Linked DNA regions of Homo sapiens: all the other regions are linked to region 5. Evidence: fine-mapped expression QTL. A gene starts in region 5. Each other region holds a variant in brackets. All regions are shown on one strand. Distances are between the middles of the regions.

Region 1 (6,162 bases), 190 kb before region 5:
ATGGGAGAGTAACTGCCCTATTCAAAATAATTACTGAAATTAAGATTATAAATTTAAACTAGAAAAATAATATGAATTCTTCACTTCCCTGTCTCTCTTCATTACTTAGGCCAGTGGTTCTAAACTATGGACAATTTTCCTCCCAGACAGGCAATGTATGGAGGAACTTTTGGTTGGCACAACTGGGGGGTGCCCAGGGCATCCAGTGGGTAGAGGCCAGGGATGCTGCTACATACCCTACAACACACAGGACAGCCCCCAAAACAAACACTGGCCTGGCCCCGATTGTAAGCAGTACTGAGGTTGAGAAGCCCTGCCTCACACCATAGCATGCTGCTTCCTGCACTCAGTCCTCTCCTGGTATTGCACATGTCAGGATCAGCTAACATCCTCATTGGTTAATCCAATGAATACTCTTCACTCTTTATCTTACCACTAGTACCACCACCAACACTACTAATAGCAATAACAACATATGTCTTCCACTAACTGGGCAGTTACCATGCATCAGGCACCTCATACATCAAGTCATGGTTTCTTCACAACAGCGCAATGACACAGGCATGCTTAGCTTGTTTTATACAGAGGCTTGGGATGGTGAAGTAACCCTACTGAGGTCACACTGGCAAAGTTAAGAACTGAATCTAAGTCTAACACACATCCTTAACCCCAGCCTTTGCTATTGTCCACTGTGACTTCTCTGCATTATATGGCGATGCTGACCACATTCTCCAGTCAAGATCTAGTTTTTCAGGGCTTCTGTGACACCACTCACTCCTGGTTCTTCTACCAAGCACCTCTCCAACTCAAATCCCTGTACAGCCTTCTCATCCTCTGTGTGGAGTCCTAAAGCCTCACAAACAGTCCCCTCTATATCTCTGATATGCAGGTCCAGTGATGTCCCAAAGTATCCCACCTCCCCAATATACATGTGAGCTGAACAAACCACTAAGATGCTTATACTTAGGCAACGAAAGAGCTGAGCTGACCACTGAGTGTATCTCAGGCTGCTATGTTTATGTATTGCTCATTAGGGTACTCGGGAAGAAATGGAGGAATTCTGTCCTGATATCAAGGTTGTCTGGACAAATTATACCAGATAAACCTCACGGGGATGTGGCCCACATTTAGTCATCTCCCAGATGCAGTTTTGATGCGCTCAATCTCCAAATCAATTCCGTGTCAGTGGAATCAAGACAGAGCAGTGTTCTATTATTGGGGTTTCTGTTCTATCAGCTGAGGTTGTGGGTAATTTTCCAAAGAGTCACTAGTACAGAGGCCAACCTGCCAGCCACATGCAGCCCCAGCACCTCCGCCCACTGCTTCCTGGCCCCAACCCTGGTGGAGGCAGAGGAGGGCACCGAGGCAGAAGGCGCCCGCTGTCAGCAGAAAGACTGGCAACAAACACTAAATTCTTAAATTCTAGAATATTCTGCTGAAAAGACAGCTCAGATGGATGTTTATTTTCTGAAAGTCAAACATACTGTGCTGTTTTTTAGGCAAAAACAAATGAGCTTCTTTCTTGCCCAGAGGATAAACTTCATTTTTAACTTCCTTTGTTATTGCTTTTTTAAATCAGATAAAATCATGTCTTTTCCTTCAATCACCTTTTAAAAACCTCCAAGTTATGAAGACCTCCACTTTTTGTTGTTGTTGTTGTTGTTAAGCTGATGTTGCTTCTCCTATAAAGACTTAATATGTGATGATGAACAAAGGCAAACTTTTAAAGGTTAAACTTAGGCTTTAAAATGAAATTAAAGGTTCCTTCTGGGATATTCTTTAGTGGAAACTAATTCAGAGAGGAAAACATTCTTATATTATATTTAAATTAAACTTAATATGATAATGCCCCCACATTAATTAAAACTTCAGCCTTTGCCACAGTGACTTTAATTAAAGAACAACAAATGAAAATATGTAATCTAGACTGAATGTATAACTATGCCAGTTAATTGACATCAAAGCTGAGAGAAATTAATTTCTATTTGGATTCATTAAATTCTTAGGCAATGCACAGTAAAGGTCAACGGAAGACTTGGTGAATTTACTCATGGCACTGATATTAAGTGCACACCATAAAAACCAGGAGTCCTCAAATCACAATTTCCTCCCACGGACTGATTAATCAGGTGAAAATATAGAATTTCAAGAGAAATTTAAAAAAACTGATGATGGTACGCTTTGCTCTTTTTGGAATGCAATATATTCTGGAGCAGTTTCAGGCATTAAAATATCTCTGCTCCTTTGTGGTGCTTGACGTTATTGAAAATTCAATTTCATTTTCAATAATATAACTCCCAGAATGGCATACAACACTGGGTTGGGCAGTCACAAGACCTGAATCTGGCACTTGCTCAGGTAAGCCAAAGCTTCCTGAAACTCTTGGGTCTTGGTTTTCTCTTCTATGAAGGTGAAGATGCTAAAGTTCATATTCTTTTTTTTTATTTTTTATTTTTTTTTGAGATGAGCCACTGCAATAAAGTTCCTATTCTTAAAAAAGGCACTGAGTACAGTAGGCAGAATAATGAGTCCCTGAAGACAGCCACATCCTAATCCCCAGAACATGTGAACATGTTACCTTACATGGCAAAAACGATGTGATTCAGTTCAGGATCTTGAGAGGGGGAGGTCATTCTGGTTTCTCCGAGTGGGCCTAATGCTATCACAGGGGTCATTATAAGAAGAAGGCAGGAGAGGGCACAGAGATGCAATCTGAGAGAAGCTCCACTGGCCATTTCTGGCTTTGAAGGTGGAGAAGGGGGTCACAGGGCAAGGAATGTAGGTAGCCTCTAGAGGCTAGAAAAGGCCAGGAAAGGGATTCTCCCCTAGAGTCTCCAGAAGGAATATTTGTTAGCACTTTGATGTTAACTTGGTGAGACTCATTTTGGACTTCTGGCCTTCAGAACTAAGATAATAAAACTGTGTTGTTTTAATCCACCA[C/G]GAAGTGTGTGGTGACTTGTTACAGTAGCTACAGGCAACTAACACAGGCACTGACAGATACGAATACGGATAAGGACAAGGAACAAAAGCAGGTAAATTATCCAAGGAAAGTGGATATGGAAAAATTGTATTAGATTAACAAGTGAATATGGAATAGAATTTTGCTGACATTTGCACTTCCTACTGTCTCTTAACTCAGTGTCTGTCCTAGGCCCAGCCAGGGCCCCAGTTCAGAGCTAGGAAGTGCTTAAGGGTAGAAATTAACCGGAAGTCACATGCAAGCACTGAGGTGGAGGGTTCCTGGTGACATGGCATGCAATATTAGATCCTACCTGGGACTATCTGAATCCTATTTAAATCCCAGCCCCTCTTCCCACAGGATCCTCAAGAAAAAGAGCAAAAGGGAAAATGCAGCAGAGGAAACAAAGTGCATTTTATTATCAGCCAAGCTGATATCCCAAACCCAATAAGAAACACTTGGCAGAGGAGCATAAGCAAGGTCTTCCCATCCGCCCCCTCCCCTCACATACGCCCCCAAATCTTGGGATCTGAGACACTCTGGATTACCATAGGGAAGGACTTGCAAAGAAATAGGTTTCAGAGTCAGTCTTGGGTCAGATTAGCAATTAGCCTCGGGGATGAAGAAATAAGAGAAAATAAACAGTATCCATGTGTGTGACTTTTCCACCAACTACCAGCAAATGTGGCCCAATTGCTTAAGAGATGACCACGCCTCTTCCTTCTCCTCCTCTTTCTCCTCCTCCTCTCTAATAAGTGCAAACATCTACAAACTTTAGGGGACATCAAACATGGGAGTGGCAAAGGCACAGACGTTGAATCAGGAGACTGAGTTTGGCTTGGCCACTTGCTTGCTTGGTGTGACCTGAGGTCAGTCATTAGCACTCCCTTCATTTCTTTATTTCACAATAGGAACGATTATGCCAAGCTCACAGGGCCATTGTGAGAGATAAATTAACACATAAAATAACAATCAATAACACAGCATTATATCACATCACTAGAAGCATGTGCCAAGAACTTATTGAATCTGGGCCCTAATAAAAACAATTTTAAAATTAAGATGTCTAAAAATCAAATACATCACCTGTGGGTTACCTCACAGTTTCTGGATTTCCTGCTATGCTATTTTCCCTGAATCTGGTGTAAAAAACTAATACACAAATATACATCCAAGGTACACATGCATACATATTTACATTTTTCTAATATAGCACTTCAAAGTAACATAAAGATTCTAGCAGACGCCAAATACTAAGACGTCTCCTTGACACTTCTCCTCTTATTGCTTCCTCTTCCTCCAGTTACCCACCCTTACACTTCAATGACTCTAAAACTGGGGGACACAGCCCTCTGGGAGAAGCAGCTAACTCCGCTCCAGGGCACAGCTGAAGGGGATGTATTCCTTCTGCTGTAATTAGAATACAGAGCTTTGGCGGGAGCTGCCTAGCCCTGGTCCGCAACCTGGGCAGGAATAACAATAATACCACCAACGACTGCCTTGTTTGACACCAAGTCCCAGTGCCTAGCATGGTTCCAGGCACACTGTAGGCGCTTGAGAGATACATGCTCAAAGTAGAAATATGCAGATAAATGTAATAGTGGATTTGAGCCATTCATCAAGAACTTACTGTCGGCACTCTCTGGGAATCTTAGAGAATGATATCTAATCTTTGCAACTGCTGTGGAGGTAGGTTATGAGCCTTCCTCTTTGGTGGTATATAAACCAAGATTCAGAGAGGTTAAGTACCTGGTCCAAGGTCCACAGTGATCAAAAATCCCGGCCCAGGTCCATCTGACTCCCAAGCGTGTGGTCATTCCAATAACCTAGAGAGACTTGAGGGAGGGCTTGGAAGCCACTGGAAAGCCCACTAAACCCCATCCTCACCCTGCTACATGCTCTAGGAGTGAGCAAAAGATTCATAAAGCTTAGCACCAAAGTATCTGATGCCTCTCACAGCCTGTGATTTACTGAACCAGTTCTTGAGCTAGCTTAATCAGGTGTATTTTAAGGGGAGGAAAGGGGCAGGCCCACTGAAGCAATACAAGTATTTCTTCCTTAAACAGCATGAAACGTGCATTTGTGTGGGAGAATGCTTCAAATCCATATTAATGAAGAAGTGATGGCTAAGAGGAATCTGTCTTCAAAGCATCAGATGCACATAAAATATAAGCCAGGAGTATAATATTTACATAGTGCTCAGTACTACCTTAATTACTACAAAGTATCAGAGTACTGAGGGATCAGTACATCCAGACAGGCCCTGGTGGCAGACACCTGGCAATGTCACCCAGTGCCCTCAGGGTGAAAGGTACGTGGGAACCAAGATACGCAAGCTCATAAGCCAAATGTGCACATGTCCCCGCTCCACGTTGAGGGACATCATGTGAGCAGCTTAAACTTGGCCATGGTAGAAGTATTTACACTACAGAAATTGGCAAATTCTACAAGTCATGTTTCCCCTCCCTCCTACTTGGGAAGAGCCTTAGCAGCCACTCTTCCCAGCAAGCTTTGGGAACACACTGTAAACCACCCAAACTCCATGGAGAATGCCATAGTACCTTCCCTTAGAAACCCACACAGAACAGAAGTATCTGATGTGGGAACCCTCAGCTCCTTTTAGGCCATTTTCCTGACCTCCTCTGCAGCACTGTGCACTGAACCCCTCCCTGGAATCCCAGGATCCCTGTGGCATAGCAGGCAGGAGGGTCTTTCCTAGGAATCAATAGCTTTGCACATGTCACAGTGTGACACTGTTTAACACAGCTGATACACAAGGAATCCCTGCACATGGTTTAAAGGAGACTGTAAAATCCTTTTGAGAAAAATACATGTTATTTGTGTTTTTTATGATGTTATTTTAAGACATCTTCCTCTATATCAAAACATGAAATTATAAAGTCTCATGAAGATATTTTTGGGGGAGTAGAAGAGGAAAATAAAACCAAATAGGGATGGAGAGAGTTACTTGAAATTAATCAAAAGAAAATGAAAAATTCCAGTGGTTCCAAACAATTCAACATTTCCAAACAGTAATTTAATCTGGTTTCATGTTCTCCTTTCATTCTGCTCCTCTCTCCTAGACATAAGAACAATGTGAACTTTGTGCTTCTGAGATTTCAAAACTGTGTTCATACTCCACCATCCATCTGATTTCAGAGACTGTTCTCCTGCCAGAGCACAACGGCGCATGGCCTCTTAAG
Region 2 (6,162 bases), 200 kb before region 5:
GTTGGGATTACAGGTGTGAGCCACCACGCTCGGCTGTGCCATTCTTATTCGAACATGAAAGTGTAAGAAATAAAACTGACTACAAGAAATATATTTGCACAAAATCAGGACTTGCGAGGGTAGGAGGAGTTAAAGTGGCATTCACAGGTACCTCGTGCCTCAAAGAGAGAAGAGGTGGAACAGAATTTTTACAGAACTAGATGTTAATAATTATCTCTTTCTGGAAGGGGCAGAGAGTGCAAGCAAAACTGTAAGGCTGGATGCATGAATGTCACCAATCAAGAAGAACAAAAAGAAGGACTTCAGACAAAATCTACAGGTGCCAAGTTATGCTCTATAAGCATATATCAGTAAATGACATAGAGGTTCAGAATAGCATATAATATTCCTTCACAGCCAACTGGCCAAGTCCATTTAGGTGTTTCCATCCTGACATATAGTAGTCACCCAAAAAATATTCAATGAATGCATAAATGAACAAAAAGAAGAACATTTTGTTCTCAGTACCATGAGGCAACAGATTAGCCGACAGTAGATCCAGGCAATGCCTGAGCCCGTGAAAGGACAGGATGCAACCTGAAAGGTTCCTCCTCATTCTGGGGAAAGCATGTCATAGTTGCTGTCAGGAAGGCTGGTACTCGTTGCAAGGCATTCCTGGGAGCCAGGTGACACACACATTGCTGGAAGAGGTGGCTTGTTACTCCACTGGTGACCACTTCATGGCAGCTTCCTGGCTGTTCACCATCTCATGGAGATGAGTATGGAGTCAACTACCCAGTCTTATGTCAACTATTTCTGTTGGGTTCACGGCTCTGCATAAAGTGCTAGCATCAGCTGGAAGCGAGGCTTTACTGCATGCTTTTATAAAAGCACCGACTGACAAGATAGATTGAGTTTTACATCAGTAATTGACACTCGAGTGTCTATTTTGTTAATGAAGAGTAAATTCTTCCAGTATGTACTAATACTTGAAACACTAGGTGACTAATTGTTTTTGCATAGATGAAGATGTAAAAGTGATCATCATCAACATCCGCAATAATCATAGCAGCTGCCATTTTTGAGGGCCTCCAGGGGCTCATTCAGGCCTCAGCATTTTACAAATGGTTTCTCTCAGTGCTTCTGAGCTCTCAGGGATTATCAGCCTACTGTACAGAGCAGAACACTGAGCCATGAGGGTTAAAAAATGGCTCAAGGGCAAGCAGTTTATAGGTGACAGAGGATTCAAAGTTAAGTCTGTCAGACTCCAAAACTCTTACTTTTTAAAAGAATGTTTATAAAAAAATTTTCAATACACAAGAGCAGAGAGACGGGTCTAATAAACCTCCATGTGTCCATTAACCAACTTCAGCAATTATCAATCATGGCAAGTCTTTCCTTTTTTAATTATACTCTAAGTTCTGGGGTACATGTGCAGAACATGCAGGTTTGTTACATAAGTATACACGTGCCATGGTGGTTTGCTGCACCCATCAACTCGTCATCTACATTAGGTATTTCTCCTAATGCTATCCCTCCCCTAGCCCTCCACCCCCAACAGGCCCTGGTGTGTGACGTTCCCCTCCCTGTGTCCATGTGTTCTCATTGTTCAACTCCCATTTATGAGTGAGAACATGTAGTGTTTGGTTTTCTGTTCCTGTGTTAGTTTGCTGAGAATGATGGTTTTCAGCTTCATCCATGTGCCTGCAAAGGACATGAACTCATCTTTTTTATGGCTGCATAGTATTCCATGGTGTATGTGTACTGAATTTTCTTTATGCAGTCTATCATTGATGGGCATTTGGGTTGGTTCCAAGTCTTTGCTATTGTGAATAGTGCTGCAATAAACATACGTGTGTGCATGTGTCCTTATAGTAGAATGATTTATAATCCTTTGGGTATATGCCCAGTAATGGGATTGCTGGGTCAAATGGTATTTCTGGTTCTAGATCCTTGAGGAATCACCACACCGTCTTCCACGACGGGCAAACTAATTTACATTCCCACCAACAGTGTAAAAGCATTCCTATTTCTCCACATCCTCTCCACCATCTGTTGTTTCCTGACTTTTTAATGATCACCATTCTAACTGGCGTGAGATGGTATCTCATTGTGGTTTTGATTTGCATTTCTCTGATGGCCAGTGATGATGAGCTTTTTTTCATATGTTTGTTGGCTGCATAAATGTCTTCTTTTGAGAAGTATCTGTTCATATTCTTTGCCCACTTTTTGATGGGGTTGTTTTTTTCTTGTAAATTTGTTTAAGTTCCTTGTAGATTCTGGATATTAGCCCTTTGTCAGATGGATAGATTGCAAAAATTTTCTCCCATTCTGTAGGTTGAATCATGGCCAGACTTTCTTGGACTATGTTTCCATGTACTCCATGCCCTGCCCCAGGATTATTCTGAAGCAAATCCTGAAATCATTATTTGCCCCATAAATATTTCATACTGTCTCTCTAAAAAATAAAACTCATCCAAAAAAGAACTACAATGCTCCTGTCACACTCAAAAACTTTACAATAAATCCTTAACATCATCAATGGTCTAGACAATGTTTAAATTTCCCCAATTACCTCACTTTTTAGGTTTGTTCAAATCAAATCTAAATGAGGTTCACACATTAGAACTGATTAATATGTCTCATAAGACTTAAAATCCATATGCTCTCCCTCCATTTCTGGCTTTTCTCCCCTTGTAGTTTATTTGTTGAAGACAGCAGGGTGTTTGCCTTAGAGAGCTGTCAGCAATCTAAGTTTCGCTGATTGCATCACCATGGAATTGACCAATGTTCCTCCATCCATGGTGTTTTCTGTAAATTGGTCACTGGATACAAATACAAAAGCTTAATTAGATTCAGATTCCTTTTTGCAAAGAATGCTTCATGGGTTATATTGGGCAGTTCTTTCAGGAGACACGCTTTGGATGGTGGTCTCTTTTATGTAA[T/C]GTTAGCAGTAACTGATGATCATTGCTAAACCCATGACATCATTAGAAGGTTGCAACATGGTAATATTCTAATTTTTCATGTGTTAGTTGAAATATTTCAAAAGAAAAAACTTCCCCTCATCGAATGTTTGGTTATGTTTACATAGGGTTTTGTTTTGTTCTGTTTTGTTTTGTTTTTAAAGGTAGAATAGGGCTGGGTATGGTGGCTCACACTTGTATTCCCAGCACTTCGGGAAGCCAGGGTGGGAAGATTGCTTGAGGCCAGGAGTTTGAGACCAGCCTAGGCAACAAAGAGAAATCCTGTCTCTATTTTTAAAAAATTTCAAAAAATTATAGTGCTTGCCTATAATCCTATCTACTTGGAAGATAGTAGATAGGACTATCTACTGTCTCCTGAGGTAAGAGAATTGCTTGAGCCCAGGAGTTCCAGGTTGCAGTGAGCTATGAAGGGAGGCTCCATGGCATGCCGGCCTGGGTAGCCAGACCCTATCTCTCAAAAAAAACTAAAAAATAAAGGTAGAACAATGGCTTGATTCTTGGTCTTAATTTACCAATTTTCAAAATAAAGAGTTGATTCTCTAACATTCTACAAAGGTGACTGAATTGTTTTTTCCAAATATCATTATAAACTTACAGAATTAAACATATTTTATGTGTTTCGCTGTCATTATTAAACACTAGTAACAGCCTCAGAATCACAATATTGTCCTTACTACCAACAATACTTGATAACTGCAGTTTTTGCAGTTTGTTTTGCCCTTAGGTTACATCCCAATCAAATAACTGTTTTGAAGTCTCTTGAAATTGTTCCTCTCCACGTAGTCACCAATTTGATATACAGTTAGAATAATTTATTTCATTTTACTCACAATGTTTAAGACTTGCTTTTTAAGTTTAATTTTGTTATTATTATATAAAATACTTTTACAATATTTTATATATAATCAGAGTCAAATCTACACAGCAGGGTATTTTGAGAAATTTAGCTTCTCCCCATCCCTTCCATCTTGCTCTCTGTCTCCTTTCCCTACATATAATGACCCCATTTCTTATCTTTTGTAACTGCTTTACTTTGAAAATAATTTTAGACTTACACAAGACTTCCAAAGATGTAAAGTGCTGCAACAGAGAGTTCCTGGAGACCCTTTACCCAGCCTCCCCTAATCTTAACATCTTTCGTAATCATGGCGCAATGATCAAAACAAGAAATTAACATTTGGATACTATTACTAATTAAACAATAGGCTTTCTCCAGATTCCTCCGGTTTTCTCATTAATGTTCTTTCTCTGTTTCAGGATCCAATTCTGCATCCCACAGCACATTTAGCCATCATGCCTCCGTTGTCTCCTCCTGGCTGTGAAAGTTCCTCAGACTTTCCATATCTTTCATGACCTTGACGCTTTTGAGGAGTACAGATGAGGTATTTGACCACACCCATCATTTGGATTTGTCCAATGGTTTCTGATAATTAGGCTGAGGTTGAAGATTTCAGTTAAGAATACCATGAGATGAAGTGTCTTCTCATCTGATCACATGGTATCAGGTCACACATGATGTCAGCATGCTTCATTACTGATGATGCCAACCTCTACTGCTTGGTGAAGGTGGTACCTCCACCATAAAGTTCCTATTTTTGCCTTCTGTAATTAACAAATATTTGGAAGGAGATATTCAGAGTTTATGTGAATATCTCATTTCTCCTTAAACTTTTGCCTACTAACTTTAGCACTCATTAACGGATCTCATCTGCTATGATTGTTCCTGTGGTATTCTAATAGTAACTTTCTATTTCCCTCATTCCTTCTACATTTATTAATCATTATTTTTTGGAGGAAATGCATAGTTCCTTCTCCCACATTTATTTATTCAATCATTTATTTATGTCAGTATGGACACAGTGTCCCAGTGAAACTTTGGGATGGTTTCCTAACAGTTGGATTATTGAATTAATGGATAAAGAAATGCAAATGTAATTTTGTTACATATTGCTATTCTCTTCATAAGGCTGGGCCATTTTACATTCCCACCAGCAACGTATGAGAGCAGATTTCCCCACAGCTTTTCCAGCAGAGATAATGTCAAACTTTTGGATCTCTGTCAAGCTAGTAGGTGAGAAATTCCATCCAGGGCTAATTTTAATGAAAATTTCTTTCCTTACATGTGAGGCTGATCATGTTTTCAGATATTCGATGTTATTTACATTTTCTTTTCCCTGAACCTTTCTTATCTCTTGTCCATTTTTCTAAAGGGTTGATCTTTCTCATCACTATTTTTATAGGCCTTTTATAAAGATATTAATTTTTTCTATATAAAAAAATATTTTTATCATTTATCTTTTTACTTATTTATGAGCTCTCAGTTTATAGATGAATTCAATTATGCTTTCTTCTAGTATTTGTAAAATATTACTGTTTCTATATTTAAATATCTGATCCTTTTGAAATTTTTCTCATATAACTTTATATGTTATAGTAAACAGATTCAATTTTATCTTTTTTCAGATAGCTATTTAGCTATCCTGTGTCACTTATCAAAAAGCCCACCTTTCTCCTACCAACTTGAGACACCATCTTTATCATATACTAAATTTCCATATGTCATTGGGTCTATTCTAAATTTTCTGTTCGATTCCATTAAACCATCTGTTCATGCACACTTAGAGAGATTTCATAATATGTTTTAATATCTGGTAGGATTCTCCTCTTATGGTTGTTATTCCCAAGGGTTTCCTAGTTAATTGTACTTACTCTTCCAAATGAACTTTAGAAATCAACTTGATTAGCTCCAGAAAAAATCTAATGGTATTTAGATTACATGTAATATGTAATAGATCATATTACCTTGATAAATTATTGTATAAATTACTTTCAGGGGAATTAACATCTTTATGATATTGAGTATTCCCATTAATTTCCTCAACTCTAGGTTTATGTCTCTTTCAGAAGTGTTTTATAGTCTCCCATATTTACATTTTGGGCATTTTTTATAAGGTTTATGCCTAGATTTATCTTGGTTTTGTTTCCTGTATCAAATGGGGGTTTTGTTTCCATTGTAACTGATTTTATGTATGTATATATGTGTGCATATATTAGCATATACATATTCTTATATTTACACATATGTGTATACACATTCATATGTGCAGGTGTACATGTATCTACAACTAACTGTTGTATGTTGATATTTTAATCTGCTGCTTTTTGTTTGTATTAGCTTTTCATTCATTCTTTTGGATTT
Region 3 (6,162 bases), 210 kb before region 5:
AAAACACGACAGATTGGACATGCACTTCCTTGCAAACAGGCAACTGGTGTATATGGTCTCCACTGAAGTAGAGTGCCTTTTCTTGCAAAAAACAATGAACTGCAAATAACAAACAGCAATTCCAACCCTGGCTGGCAACCAACATATGTCTTCCAGCAAGAACTGCTACTTAAGCTCCCTCTCAGGCTTCACGCTGTATGCTGAGCCCAGGGTGGGGGCTCTGCCTGCTCTTCTCCCAACACTGCCAACCATCACGGGGACCCACTTGAAGGCTGAAGGTGGCAAAGGTTGTGTAGAAGCAGTTGGGAGAAGAAGGTGGGGTGATTTGGGCAAAGCTGGAGTTCCTGCTTGGTTTTCTGTTTGTTTCGTTTTGATCAGTGGTTAAAGCATGTCAGAGGAGCACTTGGGATTTTGAACAAGATTAAGGCAGAATAATTCTGTGCTGTGCCCGGCTAAGGGCCTTCATGGGGAAGAGGTGGGTGCCCATGGGTCTGAGGCAGTCCAAATTGCTCCTTCCCACTGAGGCCCCAGCACACAGTGTGGAAGCATCTAGCACATTGCAGGAAAACAACCAACAAAAGAGAGGGGCAACCCCAGGAGGCACTAAAACTGGCAGGCAGTGTGTGTGACACCCCATCCCCACCCCAGGCTCATAAGCCAGGGCAGCCAACTCCTGGGCTGCAGGGGAAATGCCTGATGTGGACAGAGACAAAGGCCTGCCACGTAGAGTGCTGCTAACACTAGTTCCTACTAGACATCTACTCCCATGGGGGCAGTGGCAACAATGGTTTGCTTACTCATGGCCAGGAGGATTGAGTGGAGTGCTGGTGCTCCATGGAGGACTCCTGGGGGTTAGTGTGCCATGCTGGCACAGTCCTCAGCTGTCACTCTCTCAAGGATACACAGGATAGAGCTGATTCCTGAATCTTGAACCAAAATCTCAGCTGTGATAGAAATACGGATCTGCCAATGGATGTGTTTTCTGGAAGCTACTAAATCACCATGAAATCTGTCCACCAAAATTGTCTCTGTGAAACTGAGAATTTCACCCTTGAAGCAAATAACAGTTTTTCACTGACAAAACAGACACTCATACCCTGAAACATATTTGTACATGTGTAATAGTTCATTTTATATGTCAACTTGACTGGGCCATGGGTGCCCAGATATTCGGTCATACATTATTCTAGGTATGGCTGTGATGGTGTTTTTGGATGAGATTAACATTTAAACTGGCAGACTGAATAAAGCAAATGGCCCTCCCTAGTGTGGGTGGGGCCCATCCAATCAGCTGATGGCCTAAATAGAATTAAAAAGGTGACCCTCCCCTTTTGAAAAGGAGGGAATTCTTCCTCCCAACAGCCTTCAAGCCAGGACACTGGTTTTTCCTGCCTTTGATCTCAAGCTGAAACACTGGCCCTTCCTGTGTCCTAAGCCTGCCAGCCTTCAAATTGGAGTCACACCATTGGCTCTCCTGGGACCCCAGCTTGCTGACAGCAGACATTGGGATTTGTCAACCTCCACAGTCACATCAGCCAATTCCTTCTTTTGAACACAAACACACACACACACACACGCACACGCACACGAACACACACACACCCCTATGAGTTCTGTTTCTCTAAGAAACTCTGACAAACACAACGTATTTCTTATCAGGTCTCAGTAAAGCAGGAATGGTGGCCGAGTCACAGAGAAGCAGGCTTGGTAAAGTGCATGCTGCTGGACAGCCTCACTTGGACAAGACTGCATCAGGTAAGCTCTTGTACACAGGGGAGTGTCCTGGCCATTCGTATGTGCACATGGACTGAAAAGTAACTTGTACAATGAACGAATGACCCACACCACTTCACTGGGAGCCCAACTCCCTCCCCCACCTCAGAGGCTGACACCCCACAATGCCCTAGCACCCCCAGTCTGCTGTTTAGGGCAAACCCTCAGCAGTAAAAACAATACAAAATTAACACAAAACTCAGAAAGACCGAAGATTATCATAAAGGCAAACTGTTCAATCATCCTGACCTTCTTAAAAAGAAGATGCTGTGTCATCATAAGGTGTACTTATTACTTAAAACACCCCCAGGGAAAGAAGAAAGGGCACGGTGCAGTAGCTGGCTCGGTGAACCCAGGAACAAGAGGCCAAGACAAATGTCAGTGACAGTCTTAGACAGGCACTGATTGTTCTGCTAAATATCAAGGGGCAGGAATGCTCAGTGCAGGTTCACTATTTGCAAGAACCAAGAAATTGTCATTTGTTAAAAACGCCAACATGACTTCAAGAGGGTAACATAGGTCAGGAAGCCCATGGCCAAAGGACATTATGCCCTAGGACATGCCATAAGGCTATAAACTGCTTGGACTCCAAGTGGGCAGAAGGGCGGAAGGGAGAGACCAGGCTGAGATACTTCCGAGACTTGGAATCCTTGGCCCATGTTACAACCAGGCAAGTCATTACTCTATGCAGGCCCTCTTCCACCACCCCTACCTCTGCCTCCAGTCACCCAGCTGGCGCCAGCCACCAGCTCCTGTACCCACTCCTGCCTGGAGCCCTGCTCCCACCCTACACTCACAAGGCCTCCCTGCTCAGCACCTGCCCCCACCCCAGACCCAGGTACACGGGCCCCTGGTGCTCCCCACAGCACTCCTGGGTCCCTGGGCCACCTCCCTGAAGCATTCATCACTCTCGATCGGAACTGCCTGTTTAAGGCTGCATTTTCCATACCTCTTGACCAGTTCTGATTGTTCTTTTTTCCAGTGTACTTTTTGCCTCTAACGTACTATTATAATTTACTTATTACATGTATATGGATTGGCTATCTACCCCAATTAAAACGTAAGCTTCTCGACCATATCATTCACCTGATATGTTCACTGAAATATCCCAAGTGCTGAGAACAGTGACTGGCTGGTAAAAGCAGCTCAAGGTATATTTGTTGCATGAAAAAATAAGTCATTTCCCTTGTTAGACTATTTGCCTCTTGAGAGCAGGAACAATCTTAATTCTGTAGCCCAGTGTGGTGGGCACAGTAATGCCCGCACCCCTCAACCAAAGCTGTCCATGTCCTCATCTTTGAGGCCTGTGAATATGTTGCCTTATATAGCAAAGAAGAATGTGTAAATGTGATCACATTAAGGAGCTGGTGACAGAGAAGCCATCCCAGGTGGACAGTCCTGGATTATCTGGGTGGGTCCAATGTCATCAGAAGGGCCCTTTAAAAAGGGAGTAGGAAGGCTGGCAATCGCAATTTGCCCCTGGAAACAGAGGTCAGAGTGAGTGGATGTCAGACCTTAGCCTGCCGTTGCTGGCTCTGGGGATGGAGGAAGGGAGCCTCGGGTCAAGGAGTGCAGGTGGCC[T/C]CTAGATGCCCAAAAAGGCAAGAAAGGAATCTTTCCCAGAAACACTGTAGCTCTCTCGACACCTTGAGTTTAGCACAGGAAGCACTGCAGACTTCTGACCTCCAGAATTGTAAGACAGTATCAGTTTGTGTTGTTTTAAACCATAAATTTGTGGTAATTTGTGGCAGTGGCAATAGGAAATTAACACAACCAGAGACTGAACACAGAGTGGTTGCTCAGTAAATGCCTGCTAAATGAGTGCCCGTCAACCATACATACAATGTTACTTTGAGTCTAAAATAAAATTTAATCATAAGAACATCCATCAGTGATTTAAGCCATGAGCCACTGGTGATGACTATTGCTGTTATTTTCTTTGGTTTTTCTTTTCCTTTAAATAACTAATTTTGACTCAGAGATGCTCATGATAGCATTTCCTGTGCGGCTAGCTGTCTTCCATTTACCTTCTTAGGCAGTTCTATTTATCAAATACAAATTTCCTCCTCATAAAACCTTAACGCAAGATTTAACAACACTAACAAAAGTAATCACCTTATTTAATGAAAACTGTCAGGTTTAACAAACACACATTTAGTTGCACTCAGGTTCTCATCTGGGCCCTTCTGCCAGGCTGGAGTGGGGCACGCAAGCATGATTCTTTCTGAGCGTTGGGAGATGCTCGGGCCCCATGAATCTATTTTTAATGCCAACACTCAAGAAAAGAGGGAAAGTGACAAGAAGTCGTTGAGGACAGATTTCTGTGTCCAACAAAGAATTTAAATGGTCTCAATTATGGGCAAAATCTTTTCCTTGTCTCTTTAAAGACCAAGAAGCAAACAGTTTTTTCCCAGCTCTCTTCTCTCCAACACTGCCAGCCCCGTACCAGGCCTGCCATTACTTTCATCCCAGAAGCTGAAAACCCCAGAAGACTTGGGATTAATCCCTTTCAGTGATTATTGATGAATTTTGATATATAAGATTCTTTTCAATTAACATTAACAAGTCATGAAAAATTGTAAATAGAGTATATATCTATTTGTTTATGAGAAATAAATTTTGAAATGTTTAACCATCCAGAAGCAACTTATGTACAATGTAGAATTTGTTTTGTTTTTGGTCTTGTGGAAGATGTATATAAAAGAGATCCAAAAAGATCTCAAAAGATGCTATCCCATAGTAATCTGAAACATTGTTCTGCGATATACATCACATACTTTATGATGAGGAATTCTTGCTTTTTTCTCTCCGGCAATACTGATTTGTAGGATACAATTGAAGAATCAAAACCTCCAACATAGTCAATTCTATTTCATAACATTTTTTAAGCAACTACTATGTGTGATGTCTTGGGTTTGAGCAAGAGAAAGCCCCTGACATCAAGGTCCCTCCCACAGGAGGAAAAGCTTTCCTCTTTCCAACTGGTGCAACAGAGTTCACATTTCATTGCTTCAGCACAGTTATTAAGCAGATATAATTTCTTGACTGAAAAAATCCTAAACCAGAGTTTAATTAAAAGAAAAAGGTTGAAACCAATTTTTCTAATAAATACTGCTATATTTCAATTTAAACTATACGACAATGGAATTCAGAGGGCATCCTTTCACCTGGGAGAGCCTGAAACACTTCATTTCCTTTGCTATAGGAGTGGTGCTCAGCGTCTACCCGCCCATCAGTCTGTCCACCCACTCTCCTCTCTGTCATTTATCAACAGCCACCGTGAGCGAGGTGCGGGGCCAGGCAGACAAGATAATGGCCAGGACATACACCTTCTTGGGGAACATTTCCAAATGCAGTTCCCCACGACTGTGTTCAACAGCACCACTCTTTGCTGTGTTTGCAATAAGAAAGAAGATCCTCAGAAGGGCGGCACTGTTTTCTCCTCCCGCAAACACATTTAGCTTGTCGACACTGGTCGTTCTGGATGCTTATCTGCCTCATCCCTTGTGGTGCTGTCAGTCTGATGCCTCAAAGCATATCTAAGCTATAACCCAACCCCTGTGACCTCGTGTATCACTGCATTGCCTGCGAGGCTCAATAAATCATGTCTCCCAGCAGCAGCAAATCAATCTAGTTCTCAGAAACAAGACACAAGTCACAACCAGAAGCACCTTCCTGCACTCTCAAAAGGATTTTGCGTGTATGAAACATTCAAAGTCCTCCTGATACCATCCCAGAGAGACCCTTCCTAAAGTACCAGGTCCAGCTGGGGACTCCACATGTCAAGATGCAAATGAGGAGTTTCAGAAGATATTTATAAGACAATCTGAAGACTGCAATCTAGTAAACACCAAGAAAAGCTAAAAAGGTACTTAGCCTGGAAGTGTATGAATCTTTTCTCAGCCAACGCAGATACCAGGTTGCTACAGACTGAAGCATCCCCCTGCCTACTCTCCAGCTCGACTCCTGAGAGAAATCACACTGTGGAGGAGGGATTTTAGGACATGTGATCCAAACATTCATCTAGATATGCTAAGTCTTGTCCGTAGGTCAAGAAACCCAAGAGGTGAACCTGAATGTACTTACTAATTCCCCCAGAGAACTACTTGGCCTGAATTTCATGCTTTGCATTGTGCCCTGGGCACACTCAGGGGACAGTTGTGGAGACAGCGCTGGGATGTCCCCTCCTGGCTCATGAGGTCACCAGGCACACATCACTCAGGCGTCCTTATGTGAGTGCCTCATTAAGAAATATCTTATTTGTTAGTGCCAAGAAAAGCTAACCCCCTTCCTGAGTTAACTGTTTAACGTCTCCTTTTTGTTTTCTGTTACACAATTCAGTAACAAATTTAGTCAATTTCAGACAACTCTAGTAATACACACCTCTTCCAG
Region 4 (6,162 bases), 940 kb after region 5:
AGTGTTTTGTAACCTGAAAGTGATACAATCATGTAAAGTTTAATTGTCAAAGTTGTATTCACATATTTAATATATATGAAAAATATGTGAGCTTGGTTTTTTCCCTAATAGCCAAAATTAGCCTGAAATAATTAAATTGCTTTTAGAAAGAAAATAATTCTCATCATTTTTGTAGACCAAACTAAGTTTATTGTATTTTCTGTTTGTTTGTCTGTTTGGATTTTTGTTGTTGTTCGTTTTTCTCTTGTACGGAATGGGAATGTGACGTCCACCACATCTCTGTAGTGTGTGATGTTATTGAAATTTTTCACAATTTTTTTCTTTATTAAATAATTTTTTTAAGGAGTTGGCATACAGAATAATAAGAATTATGGAGAGGTAGAGGGTCAATCCTCAGGTGCTATTCAGAGTTAATTAACAGGAAATACTGTACAATTTTATGTTTATTGTCATTTTTTCAAAGCTTCCATAGCTTTATCAGACTGTAAAAGGAATTGTGACCCAGAAAGGCCCAGATCACTATCCGACAGGAACTTTCCTACTTGGCCTTTGAGATCTTCTCTTATCTGGCTGATGCTCCACCAGACCTGATTTTTTTCTATTTCCATGGGAAGACCCTGCTATAGATAAGCCAGTCTTCTCACGTCTCTAAGAGCACATTTCATTGTTCCCAAATCGCTTCCCCCTAACCTTTGTTTTCACCCCCTTGGAATTCATTTATTTTCTCATATGGCAGCATATATGGAACATGAGCTCCATACTGGACACAACAGAGGCACTGGTCATACAAAGACTGATAAGACATGGAACCCGGTATTCAAATACCGCAAAACCGAATGGAGGTGACAGCCCCATGACACACAACTTTGCTATTGCCTGTATCTTTGCATGAAGAAACCATACCCGTCCTTCAGAACTCAGCCCCATGCCCTCTCTTCCATGATGTCCTCACCAGTTAAATCAGGCTGTGATCCTCCACCCTCTCTAAAGAGCATGCTTGGTTTATATTTCCTCATTTTAGTATTGGTATCATATGACACATATTGGTTGTAAGTTGCCATAAAAGCCAAGCATGTGCTTATCACTTTCTGTAGATTATTTTATTGAATCCTCACAGCCATAAGAAGGTATCATCTACATTTTTAAAAAGGAAGAAATTTAAGCTTCAGGAGGTGAATTTCACACTTATGTTGCTCATGTACCTTATAACTGGTAGAGCCCGGATTTGAACCGATTGACTTCAATCCAGAGTCTTTGATCTTAACCATGTTGTTATACTGTCATTCTTTATATTACAGTGGCTCCTCCCTTAGATTAAAGGCTCTTTAAGAGCAGAAGCCTTTAATTTGTGTTACCTTGTATCCCAGAGAGTATCTCACACAACACTGAGCATTGTGATAACTGCCCCCTTCTCTTTCTCTACCCCGCCCCTGCACCAGATTCCTTCATGGAGAGAGTCTTTCACTTGTTTAGGTTCTGAATCTTCTTATACTCAGGTATTCCAAGTCAAGTCAGTATCATTATTTACTCAGATATATTTCCTGAACACCTGCTGTGTTGCAGATGGTAGGAAGACAGTGATTAAAGACATCATTGTTGTCCTTGCAAGTGCCACAGTCTACTGGGGAAATGGGCAAAGACCACGTCTGTAAAGCTCTGACAGAGATACATGTGCTTTCTAGGCACATGGAAGGGAGATGTGTAACCCAGGCAAGTTGGTCAGAGGTAGCAGAAGGGGCCCATGGAGATATTAAGACCAATAGAAGATAACCACACAGGGCAGGTACTCTCAGAGCATCCATACTTCCGCTCTGCCCTTCACCCGCTTTGTGACCTTGAGTCAGTAAGTTAACCTCTCTAAACAAGAGTCTAAACTGCAGGTTCCCCACTTATAAAATAGACATAGTCTATATATATATTTATATATATATATGATATATAAAATATCATAGTCATGATACCTTAGTATTGCTGTGAAGATTAGAAGCATGCCTGGGACAAATAAAGGTGTTCACTCATTGGTTGCTATATGTAAATATTTGCAATTATAAGAAAACATGATCATTGAGGAAACTTCAGGTATATTAGATAATTAGAGAAAGTAAGAGACCATGCTGGCTGGGTAGGACAAGGGACATGTAATGAAGGGTCTTGTAGGTTCTGCTAAGAAGCTCAAATTCAGTGCAACCATTTTCAAGTGTAGTATCCTCTTTGCCTTTAAGCTTGGCCTACTCCATTCCCTTGGGCAGATATAGTGCCTCATTTAGTCTGTGTTCCAAAAAGAACTCTACAAGCTTCTGTTTCCACTGGTTAGTGATTTTACAGTGCCTTAAAAAATAGTTGCTCTCACTTTTTCATCCTCTTGTCCCCATCTCTTCACATAGTTATTTGACAGTGTAAGGGTTTAGTAAGTGAATGGTATTGTCACTGTGAGCAAGATGATTCCTAACAGGCAGTGTTAGGAACGGTTAGCCCAGACCCCAAAAAACCCACACAGTCATGTTAACGATACTATAATTTAGATAGTCTAGCTCCCTTGTTTAACTCAAAATGAAAGACTCTGGTCACTGTATACAGAGACAGGTTCCAGAATGTAAAACTAATGATTTGAAGAAAAAATAAAATTGTAGAGTCAAAAGTTAAATGAAAATATGAGACATTTTATAGAATATGTGACAAATTTAAGGAATAAAGTTTATTTTCTGTGCAAACAATATCTACTATTTATATTGATATTCAGTGTTTTGTAGGGACAGAAAGGAAAAAATCCATCATTATTTTAAAATAACAGTCTATTTTATGCCTGATTCTGTTTCTATTTCTGATTGGGAAAGGCTACAGATCATTTTTCAATCTGAATTTCACCCTCCCTTATCGATGGAAAATCCCGTCCAGTTGAAGTTGATTCTGACTGACATTCCTGTTTCAAAAATCTCAGTAATGTATTTCAGTGATTAGCATCCATTGCTGAAATCATTTTTCAGATCTTAATGTGATGAGTCCTTCGGTGACTTTCAGGATAATGCTCAGCCTCCTTGGCTCTGAACCTCAAGCCGTGTGTGATTCTGCTGCTGGCCTGCCCAGCCGCCTGGAGCACAGCATGCTCTGACCCCAGCCCACTGTGGTCCAGCCCTGATAGATTGAAAACCATCTAGAGCTTTTCTATCAGTGCCATTCTCTGCCTGAAGTAACAGTTCCGTACCCCACTCAAATAAATGCACACAAATGAATGAACACAACTCTTACCCAGCTCTTGGTCTAGCTAGCTGTTGCTGGCCTATCCAGACTTCCCAGTGGAGCTTGAAGCATCCCCTCACCCTGGAGGCCCTCCCTAGCCTGCCATCTTCGCAGCTCTACTATGGACCCTCATCTTGCTCTATGAATTCTGCAATACAGCATCCTGAGATTGGCTGTT[T/G]ACCCTCCTTTCCTCCCACCAGATTGTAAATATCTTTAGGGCAATTACCATGCCTTATGCCTAGTAAGTGGTAAATGAACAAGTCGTTGGATGTATGAGTGAATAAAGTGGATGTGGTAGCTCAGTGGCTGATAGTACAGGACAATGTACTAGGTCTTGTTTGGCCTTATTCGATTAAATTAGTCATCCTTTCATTTGAGGAGAACTTACCAGGTTATTAAGTTCTGTCCTGTGTGTTTATCTCATTTGAACTGCTGCTGGCGGGATTTGTGTGTCTGCTGCCTAACACAGGTCCTAGTACCTAACAGACAGTCAAAACAAGGAGATAGAATAAACAAACAGGTACCATTGTGAAGTGTGCGGGGATGGTGGTGTTATCCTGAGGCTAGATTTCTGTTCTGCTTGTTGGTGGGTTTTTCTCCCTGACTGCAAGACTTGAAGTTCCTTAAAGATAGAAGAACCATGTCTTATTGGACTTGTACTTCCAAATCCTAGCACACTGCCTGGCACATAGACATAGTGGGAACTGACAGGGTGTTCAGTGAGGAACGAATGAGTGAACAAATGAACCTGTAATTCTTGAAACACTGACACTGAGCACTTTTCAGTACAGACAGTCCCTACTACAATAGTTTGACTTAGAACATTTCCCCTTTACAGTGGTGGAAATGTAGTACATGTTCAGTAGAAACTGTACTTCAGATTTTGAATATGTATCTTTTCTGCAGCTAGCCATAGTGGTATGATACTCTTGCCATGCCAGGCAATGGCAGTGAGCCATTTTGTTTTTCACTTTGAGTACAGCATTCAAAAATTACTTGAGATATCAAACTTTATTATAAAATAGGCCTTGTGTTCGATGATTCAGCCCAACCGTATGCTAATGTAAGTGTTTTGAGTATGTTTAAGGTAGGCTAAGCTAAGCTATGATGTTTGGTAGGTTAAGTGTATTGCATACATTTCCAACTTAATGTTTTTGACTTACAGTGGGTTTATGAGGACATAACCCCATCCTAAGATGAGGAGCATTTGTATTAATTTGTTTTCTTAGTGGAAGTGTGATATTTCTCTAACCATTAGATTTTTTTCAATGATAAATGCGAAGTTGGAAAACCAAAATATGCCCTTTATTTAGTCAGTAATACATGTGCTTGGTACAAAATATATACACACAATGGTGTTAATTCCCACCTTTACCCCCACACACCCACAGGTAACTATTTGTATTGATTTTCATGTATCTTTCCAGAGATAGTCTGTGCATAAGTAAAGCATTTTTTTAAATTATCACTATTTTTTACATAGAAAACAATATACCATTTTCTCCCCTTGTTTCACTTTGAAGTATGTCTTAGAGCTCATTTTCTGTTATTTTATACTAGAAAGCTACCTTTTTCTTTTTATTGGCTGAATATTTATATGAAAGAGCCATAATCCAAACAACTACTGACAGAGATGTAGTTAGTTTCTAATATTTTGCTCACATTAAAGGCAATGCAAGAAGCCATGTTTATAAACATCTGTGGAATGAATTTTTAAAGTAGACCTACTGGGCTTTTATAGATGTTTCCCATAGAGGTCATGGTGCATCTTCATATGCTTTTGTAAAAGAAACCTATCTAAATGCTACATGTATTCATTATGATCTATAAGATTAGCTCCTGTGGCCACACCAGAAACTCATCTGCTCAAAAGTTGGTTTAAAATGGTCTTTTATACACAGCATGGCGTCTGGCATGTGGCAGGCTGGTTACCCTGTGTGATTTAGCGAAGAGATGCAGGGCGTGCTGGGTCCAGTAAGGACACCTCCTGGACACTCGTCTGTGTCTTATGGGGAGAGCTGAAAGTCCTGCGACCCTTCCTCAGACTCCTGCTGGTCTCCTCACATTCCTGGAGCTTATTTACATCAGCAAGTGTATTGTTAAGGGCTGGCCCGTGGTGGGGCAGGCTTTGTGGAAAGTAAGGTGGCCACACCAGGGTAGCAGGAGAGGCCGACAGGCTCTCTGAGGAAACAGACAGGATCTCCTCTAGCACTCCCCTGCACGGGCTCATTGCCCACCCTCTCTTCTTCTCTGGTTATCCAGATCCTCCCATTTCTTCAAGATCTTTTATCTCTCTCAGCCAAAAGAGCCTTCTCTTCTCTCCGCATGAGAATCCTGGCTGAGAGGACTGGATTGGCAGATGTCTCATTCTGACCTGCCGGTTGATGGGATGGTGCTGTGTAAATGTCCTTCATCCCTTGTATGCTCCTTGAGGGTCACAGGTGTGTCTGTCACATTTTATAAACCTGAAAGCATTCAGCACAAGCCATTCAAGAAATATTTATTGGTTAATTAAGGCAATGCCCTCATCAATAGATTTACTGTATTAGATGTTTAACTTTTTAGAGGATTCACCTTTAAATAACAGTTTGCATCTGATTCATCCTAGCAGTACTGATGCTTTATGCAGGTGACACTGAGACGCCCACCGTGTCCCTGGCACTCTGCAGCAATAAAAGGCTAGAGAAGGGCAGGGATGGTGCAGAGGAGAAAGGGATGAACTTGCTCCGAGGACAAAGGAAGAAATAAAACCTGAATGGAGTTTTGAAAGTCGAAATCTTGCAAGCCAGGAAGGGAGGAGAAAATGTGAAGACATAATAAGCTAATACAGGTGGGAGAGGAGGGTGTCAACCAAGACATGAAATGGCGTCATGTGTTTTAGGAACGTATAAGCAGCTGCTGGAATATAACATGCTGGGAGAGAAA
Region 5 (6,162 bases):
GAGGAGGAAGGCACCAATCGAAAAGATATTTCACGTTTATCAAAATGGAGTCACTCATGTCAAACTCTAACAAAATGGAGCCAGAGGATAGGAAGGAAGGGCCCTCATGCAAGTATGCCTATGACAGGAACTATGCCAGGAATTCCTTAGAGCCTGTTACTTGCACAGGACACTTGCCTGGTGCACCTGTCTCCAATGGACTAATGCCAGCTCCTGCAATAAACCTCTGAAACCAATGGTCTTTGTTTCAAAACCGCTTAGGTGGACTTCCCTTTTGGGTCTTTAAAAGTTTCCATTTGCCCCAACTTCTTTGGACGTACCTATGATCCAGCATAGCGCATGTATCTAAATTGCAATCCCCTATTATTCCCAAATAAACTACAGTTTCAGGATCCCATATCCAAAATGCTTGGGACCAGAAGTTTTAGAATTCCAGATGTTTTTGGATTTTGGAATATTTGCATATACATAGTGAGATAACCTGAGGATGGGACCCAAGTCTAAACATGAAATTTATTTATGTTTGATGTGCACCTTATACACACAGTCTGAAGGTAATTTTACAATATTTTTAATTTTGATCATGAAACAAAGTGTACAATGAACCATCAGAAAGCAAAGGTGTCACTATCTCAGCCACACATATGGGCAATCTGTGGTTGTCTGGCATCGCCATCATTCCCGACTCTGAATTTCTATGCTACCAATAAGACAATCACTTTCTTACATTTATTTACACATAAGTCCTTACCAGTAAAAAATATGACACACCATTAATACAGTGAAAAACAAGGTGTTCAAGGTACCTAAGCGGCACAGCAGCATCACCAGAACACATGCATCAGCTGCTAAACAACAGAACAATAAACAACGGCTGGCTTTAAGTCTGCTGTTCAGCCTGCATTTCTTTCTGAGTGTTAACAGCATCGTCTTTACAGTTGTGCAACTGTTGTTTTGTTTTGTTTTTTGAGAAAAATAGAGATGGGGTTTCACTACACTGCCCAGGCTGGTCTTGAACTCCTGGACTCAAGGGACCCTCCCGCCTCAGACTCCCAGAGTGCTGGGATTACAGGCGTGAGCTACTGCGCCCGGCTATGGAACTGCATTTCTGCTGAGAACCTTCACGAGGTCAGATAGAAAATTTTCCACTGTGGCCTCATGTCAGTGCTCAAAGTTTCAGACTTTGGAGCATTTCCGATTTCGGATTTTTGGATTAGGGATGCTCAACCTGTATTTGGAGAGCAAGTCTCTCCGGTGCTCATTTTAGGCTAACCTAAGACAGCACACCTGAATCAGCTGGGCACCACAGCTAATCAGCGCACCTGTGGTCACAGCTACTTGGCAGGCTGAGGCGGGAGGTTTACCTGAGGGCGGGAGGCAGAGGTTGCAGTGACCCGAGATTGCACCATTGCACCCCGGCCTGAGTGATAGTGCGGGACTCTGTCCCAAAAAATTAAAAAAATTAAATTAAAAAAAAGCACGCCTGATATAGTTCGGGTCTCCTGACCCAATATTCGGCTCTGGGCCCACTCTGTCACTCCAGGACACATTCTCCCACATCTAGCACCGCAGCAGGTGGAGGCAGGACTACGACTGGGACTGCTCTTTACCCCTGCCTGGCGTGCAGAGGGGATCCTTGCAAAGCTGTTATTTGAACTAAAGTCAGGAAAGGTGTCCCTGGGGGTTAGAGGTAGGACACGCTACTTCCTTCAGCATGGGGACACACACTACAGATGTTTCAGTAGATGAACTGGTAGGCTCGGAAGATAAAGCTGGTGAGAGGCAGCTGTGCGGGGCATCTCCAAAAGGTCACTTGGACTCCAGCAAAAAAAGCCAGACTGATGGGCAGGCGTGATCAGTTAGCGCGTTCGTTCTTTCATTCACTAAGTATATAGTGAACACTTACATGAGCCAAGCCCTATTCTAAGAAGATGGAGGTACAAGTCAGGCGAGCACGCAGGAGTTTGGATTTTAGCCCAAGTTGGAGGAAGTTAATTTTTAAAGCCCCAGCTCTGTCGTTTTTAAACTGTGTAAAGTTGACCTCTCTGAACTTCTGTTCCTCATAATAAATGACCTACAAATTAGAGTTCTCAAGAGAGCTGAGCAGCAAAACGTGTTAAGTCAGTGCCCAAATGTGGAAGCTTGTGGTAATTACAGGTGAAGGACCCCAAGCTCAAGGTTAAATGACTTGCACCGGGTGTCAAGTGGAAGATCTGTCACTCTATTAGGTCCAGCCGGCGGCCGGGAAGCCTGCAGGAGGTACTCATTTCGCCAAGGAGGAATCCGAGGCCAGGCAAGAAGGAAGCCCCGCCAAGGTCCAGTCAAAGAGCTGGCATCGCCGGGATTCGAACCTCGCGCCCACTGCGTTCCGTCGCTGGCCCGCGCCCCAACGCCACCCATTGCCGTGGAAACGGCCGGGCGCATGCTCTCCCACTCGCTCCCGCCTTGCTTTTTTTTTTTTTTTGCGGCGGGATACCCCAGCGACTGAACGTGAGCCGCAGAACGCAACTACGTTCGCTCTCCTCCCCAGACCCGGATCCCTCCGCGGCCGGCGGCCGGCGGCCGGCGGCCGGCGCACTGCTTCCCGACTCGACGCTCGAAACGGCTTTCCGCGCGCCGCGCCGCGCCCCACCCCCACCCCGTCTCACCCCAACCCCCAGCCCGGCTCACCTGCCGCCCGCGTCTCCATGGCAACGCCCCACCGCGGAGGAAAAAAAAGCCTCGGGCTCTTCCGGGCCCCCTCCCGTGCCGACCGAGGGGGCGGGGCGCCCTGCTGACGCTTCGCTTTTTATTTTTATTTTTTTAAGAAAAGAGCCGGCGAGGTTATGGCGAATCTGCGGCATCCAACATGGCGGATGGAGTCTTCGCCCTCCTCCCCACGGGGCGCAGACGCCTGCGTAGCGGACGTCCGCTTCGGGTGACCCTCCCCCGGCGCCGAGCGCGGCCCGGCAGGGCCGAGCTAACGCGCATGCTCGCAGTCGGAGGCCGTGCTTTTTATCCCACTTCACGGATTCCGCTGCGCCGCGTTTTGAGCCACGCCCAGGGAGGGGCCCTCGGGAGGTCCGGAGCGCGGATCTCGGGGTCAGGAGTCTGGCGGTTGTGCCAGGCCTCTGCTAGCGCGACCCTAGACCCGCGGCATGTGGGGCCGCCGAGCTGGGCGTGCAAGGAGAGTTCTGGGTGCGCTTCGTGTCCCAGCTCTACCTCTCACTACCTAACTTGGGGCAGCGAATTAACTTTTCTTGCTCTCAGTTTACTGATGTGTCCATCGGGGTGCTCCCAACCTGCATCCCGCTCAAAGCTGCGGCGTTTCCCGAAGCGTGGGGTGCTTTCCTTTGGGCCACCCGGCTGGGTTTTAGGGGCTACAGAGCACTGAGCGGCCTACGATCACACGTGACAAGGCGACTTCCTCCTCTCTCGTCTCTTTTTGTCCCACAACAAGTCTGCACTGGATGTGCGCGCCTCCAACACCCGCTCATTCATTTCTCTGCTTGTGGCACAGCCTTCGGCAGGCAGCTGAGTCTGGTGGAAATTTAATGACTTTGTTTTTGGTTTTGATGTTAAGGTGTTTAGCTCCAACACTGTAGTCCTCGGCTCAAATGATATCTTCCAGCCCCTAACCCTCACCCCCCGAAACCCATCTAAAGTAACCCTCCAAGACACTTCATATTTTCTACGTAGCATCCATTCCTATCTGTCATTATCTCCCTCCCTTACCTCTGTCAATGGTCACCCCGTTAGCCTCAGAAACAAACTGAGCCTGACAGTTATTTATTTCATGAGTAATGAGTTGATGTGGTCCATGTTCTAAGGTCATTTTCTGTTCATGACAAATAACGTTTTTCACTTACAGTAGTCATATAAAGTTTTTAAATTGTTCGTTTACATTTTCAAAAATCAGTCAACTTAAAATGGTGTACATGCTGCAAAGACATGCCCCCCCCCCCCCAAAAAAAAAAAGTGTAAAAGCAGACTTCAGGAGACTGAAGTTTGGGAAACTGATTTGTGTTCATGGTTCCCCTGAAATGCTAGTCTTTGCCTGTTCTTCTTTTCCTGGAATAACCCTCTTTGGTTGCTGCTCAACATGAAATTCTCGGACAGCCCTGAAGTTCACACTTCATGTTCCCACAGCTCTGGTCTCACTGGCCTAGCTCCATCCCCCACTTCTCTGTTTGCACAGCGTTCATCCTCACTAGACTGAGCTTCCTGAGCAGCCCTTATAGGTCCTTTTCATCTTGTTTTCTCAGCGCCTGTTGCATAGTCATATTACTGAATGAACACTTCGTTCTGGGGTCACTTATTTTTTAGGAGGAAAACTCCCTTGGGCATTGAGCTTCAGGATGACTCATCTGATTTCTCAGGAGACTGCCCGCCTGCTCCTTAACCCTGTTCTTGGGAAATACGGAACCATGAAAAGACCCTAAAGTTGTCCAGTCTGTTAAATATATGCTCACAGATATAGCCTCCCCCTTCTTCATTTCATCCTCGCAATCTGGAAGGTTAAGTTGGGCAATATGATTATTGTCCTTTTCCAGATGAGAAAATGGAATGTTCAGAGTGGTCAAATGGCTTTCTGAGATTACACAGCAAAATAGTGAAGAGCCAGGTGTGGATCTCGCCTCTCCATGCCCAGTGTTCCTCTCCCCACCACATCTAAAATGTACCCAAACTGCCCCCCAGGCCTCCAGGAGAGCCTCCAAGAGAGCCAGTTCCAAGACAGCCACAGAGTCGCTTCACAGCCACCACGTCCTCCACCACAAGATACATGGCTAGGTGGGGCCCATCAGAATCTTTATTTGGAAATGAACTGCTCAAAAAGCTGCATTGATGAGCGTTTCCTTTTAGAACTATAAATATTTACAATAATCATTATTTTGCTGTGAATCGATTTCTGTCAGGAAATTAGAGTTGTTCTGGGTTGCTGACAGTATTGGTTTTGTGCCGGTTTGCCTTTCTCACAGCAGCGTTTAAATGTTGTTTATTGATTAGCAGATGGATTGCTCCTAGATGTTGTGACCAAACGAATTTTGGAAATGAAACAATTTAAAATTTGTCTCAAAACCCAATTACCTCAGACTGCTGAAGACAAATTAAAAGAAGAAATTGTGGACTGTGGATGATGGTTCTGGGTTAATTATTTGGAAAGCTATGATTTTCTCCACTATTCCCATGGCATTTTCTTCCTCCTACCCATTCATCATTCAGAGAAGAGTTACTGAGCACCTATTATTACTGGAAACTGTCCTGGCCATAGGCAGATGGAAATGACTAAGAGATGGCCCCTTTCTGTGGGGGAATCCAGGTTCGTAAATGGAGAGATGAGTCCACAGCTGGCTCTTCCACGGCCTTACTATGTGATTTGCACATTTTCAATCAGCAAACATCTCTATTCTTTCTATTTGCCAGTAATATTTCAGAATGCCTTCAATTAATGAAGACACATTTGTGGAATTGGATGTAAATCACTCGAAAGTATATAATTAATGGCAAGCTGCCTCGGTGATGGTTCCTAGAAGAGAGCGGCTTCCCAGCTGACCACTGGTGGCAGTTGGCCTCTTGAAGCTAGTATGTGAATTAATTTGTGTCAATAAATTTATCGACATGAAATGGTATTTAGTTATATAAGAAATATAATTTGCACAACTGAATATATTCGTGTCAATAATTTTATCATTATATCCAATATCTTTATGAGAAATAGACATTTACATGAAAACAATAATTTAGGAACATAATTTCACAGGATGCTTTCTTGAAAGAAGGTTTTGATAAAGGATACATACAGGCGACCTCAAAATAATGGATCTTGGCTGGGCATGGTGGCTCATGCCTGTAATCCTAACACTATGGGAGGCCAAGGCTGGAGGATTGCTTGAGCCCAGGAGCTCAAGGCTGCAATAAGCTGTGATCATGCCACTGCACTCCTCCAACCTGGGCAGCAACAAAGCAAGACCCTGTCCCTAAAATTTATTTATATATATATATATATGTATATATGCACACACACACACATATATATATATATGCATATGTATGCACACACACATATATATCTATAAAATGATAAAATCAGAGGTGGGAATAATCAGTTTGGGTTAACAGTTAAAAATCTAAATAGGCACATTGTAGAAAATAATCCACTTAAAAATCATATAAAAGAGAAGG

The links. PIP is the estimated chance that this variant, and not a neighbour inherited with it, causes the effect. A credible set is the group of variants that fine-mapping cannot tell apart.
Region 1: its variant is the best candidate, but not a certain one, in a credible set for the expression of ZFAT in tibial artery (GTEx, PIP 0.81).
Region 2: its variant is the best candidate, but not a certain one, in a credible set for the expression of ZFAT in esophagus muscle (GTEx, PIP 0.85).
Region 3: its variant is the best candidate, but not a certain one, in a credible set for the expression of ZFAT in subcutaneous fat (TwinsUK, PIP 0.52).
Region 4: its variant is the best candidate, but not a certain one, in a credible set for the expression of ZFAT in subcutaneous fat (TwinsUK, PIP 0.82).

Annotation. Positions count from the first base shown.
Region 1 is chr8:134,524,400-134,530,561 of GRCh38, forward strand. The region is part of intron 12 of ZFAT (zinc finger and AT-hook domain containing); the gene reads right to left. Among named protein-coding and RNA genes, the nearest start is that of ZFAT, 190 kb to the right of the region's middle. The variant C/G (reference allele first, on the strand shown) is at 2,941.
Region 2 is chr8:134,513,438-134,519,599 of GRCh38, forward strand. All of the region lies in intron 13 of ZFAT (zinc finger and AT-hook domain containing), which reads right to left. Among named protein-coding and RNA genes, the nearest start is that of ZFAT, 200 kb to the right of the region's middle. The variant T/C (reference allele first, on the strand shown) is at 2,925.
Region 3 is chr8:134,502,358-134,508,519 of GRCh38, forward strand. The region is part of intron 15 of ZFAT (zinc finger and AT-hook domain containing); the gene reads right to left. Among named protein-coding and RNA genes, the nearest start is that of ZFAT, 210 kb to the right of the region's middle. The variant T/C (reference allele first, on the strand shown) is at 3,355.
Region 4 is chr8:135,649,382-135,655,543 of GRCh38, forward strand. It overlaps a transcript of KHDRBS3 not described here. Among named protein-coding and RNA genes, the nearest start is that of KHDRBS3, 200 kb to the left of the region's middle. The variant T/G (reference allele first, on the strand shown) is at 3,416.
Region 5 is chr8:134,710,175-134,716,336 of GRCh38, forward strand. ZFAT (zinc finger and AT-hook domain containing) reads right to left here and starts at 2,857. Exons shown (of 16, transcript NM_020863.4): 1 at 2,671-2,857. The coding sequence starts at 2,689. RefSeq lists an enhancer at 2,689-2,868.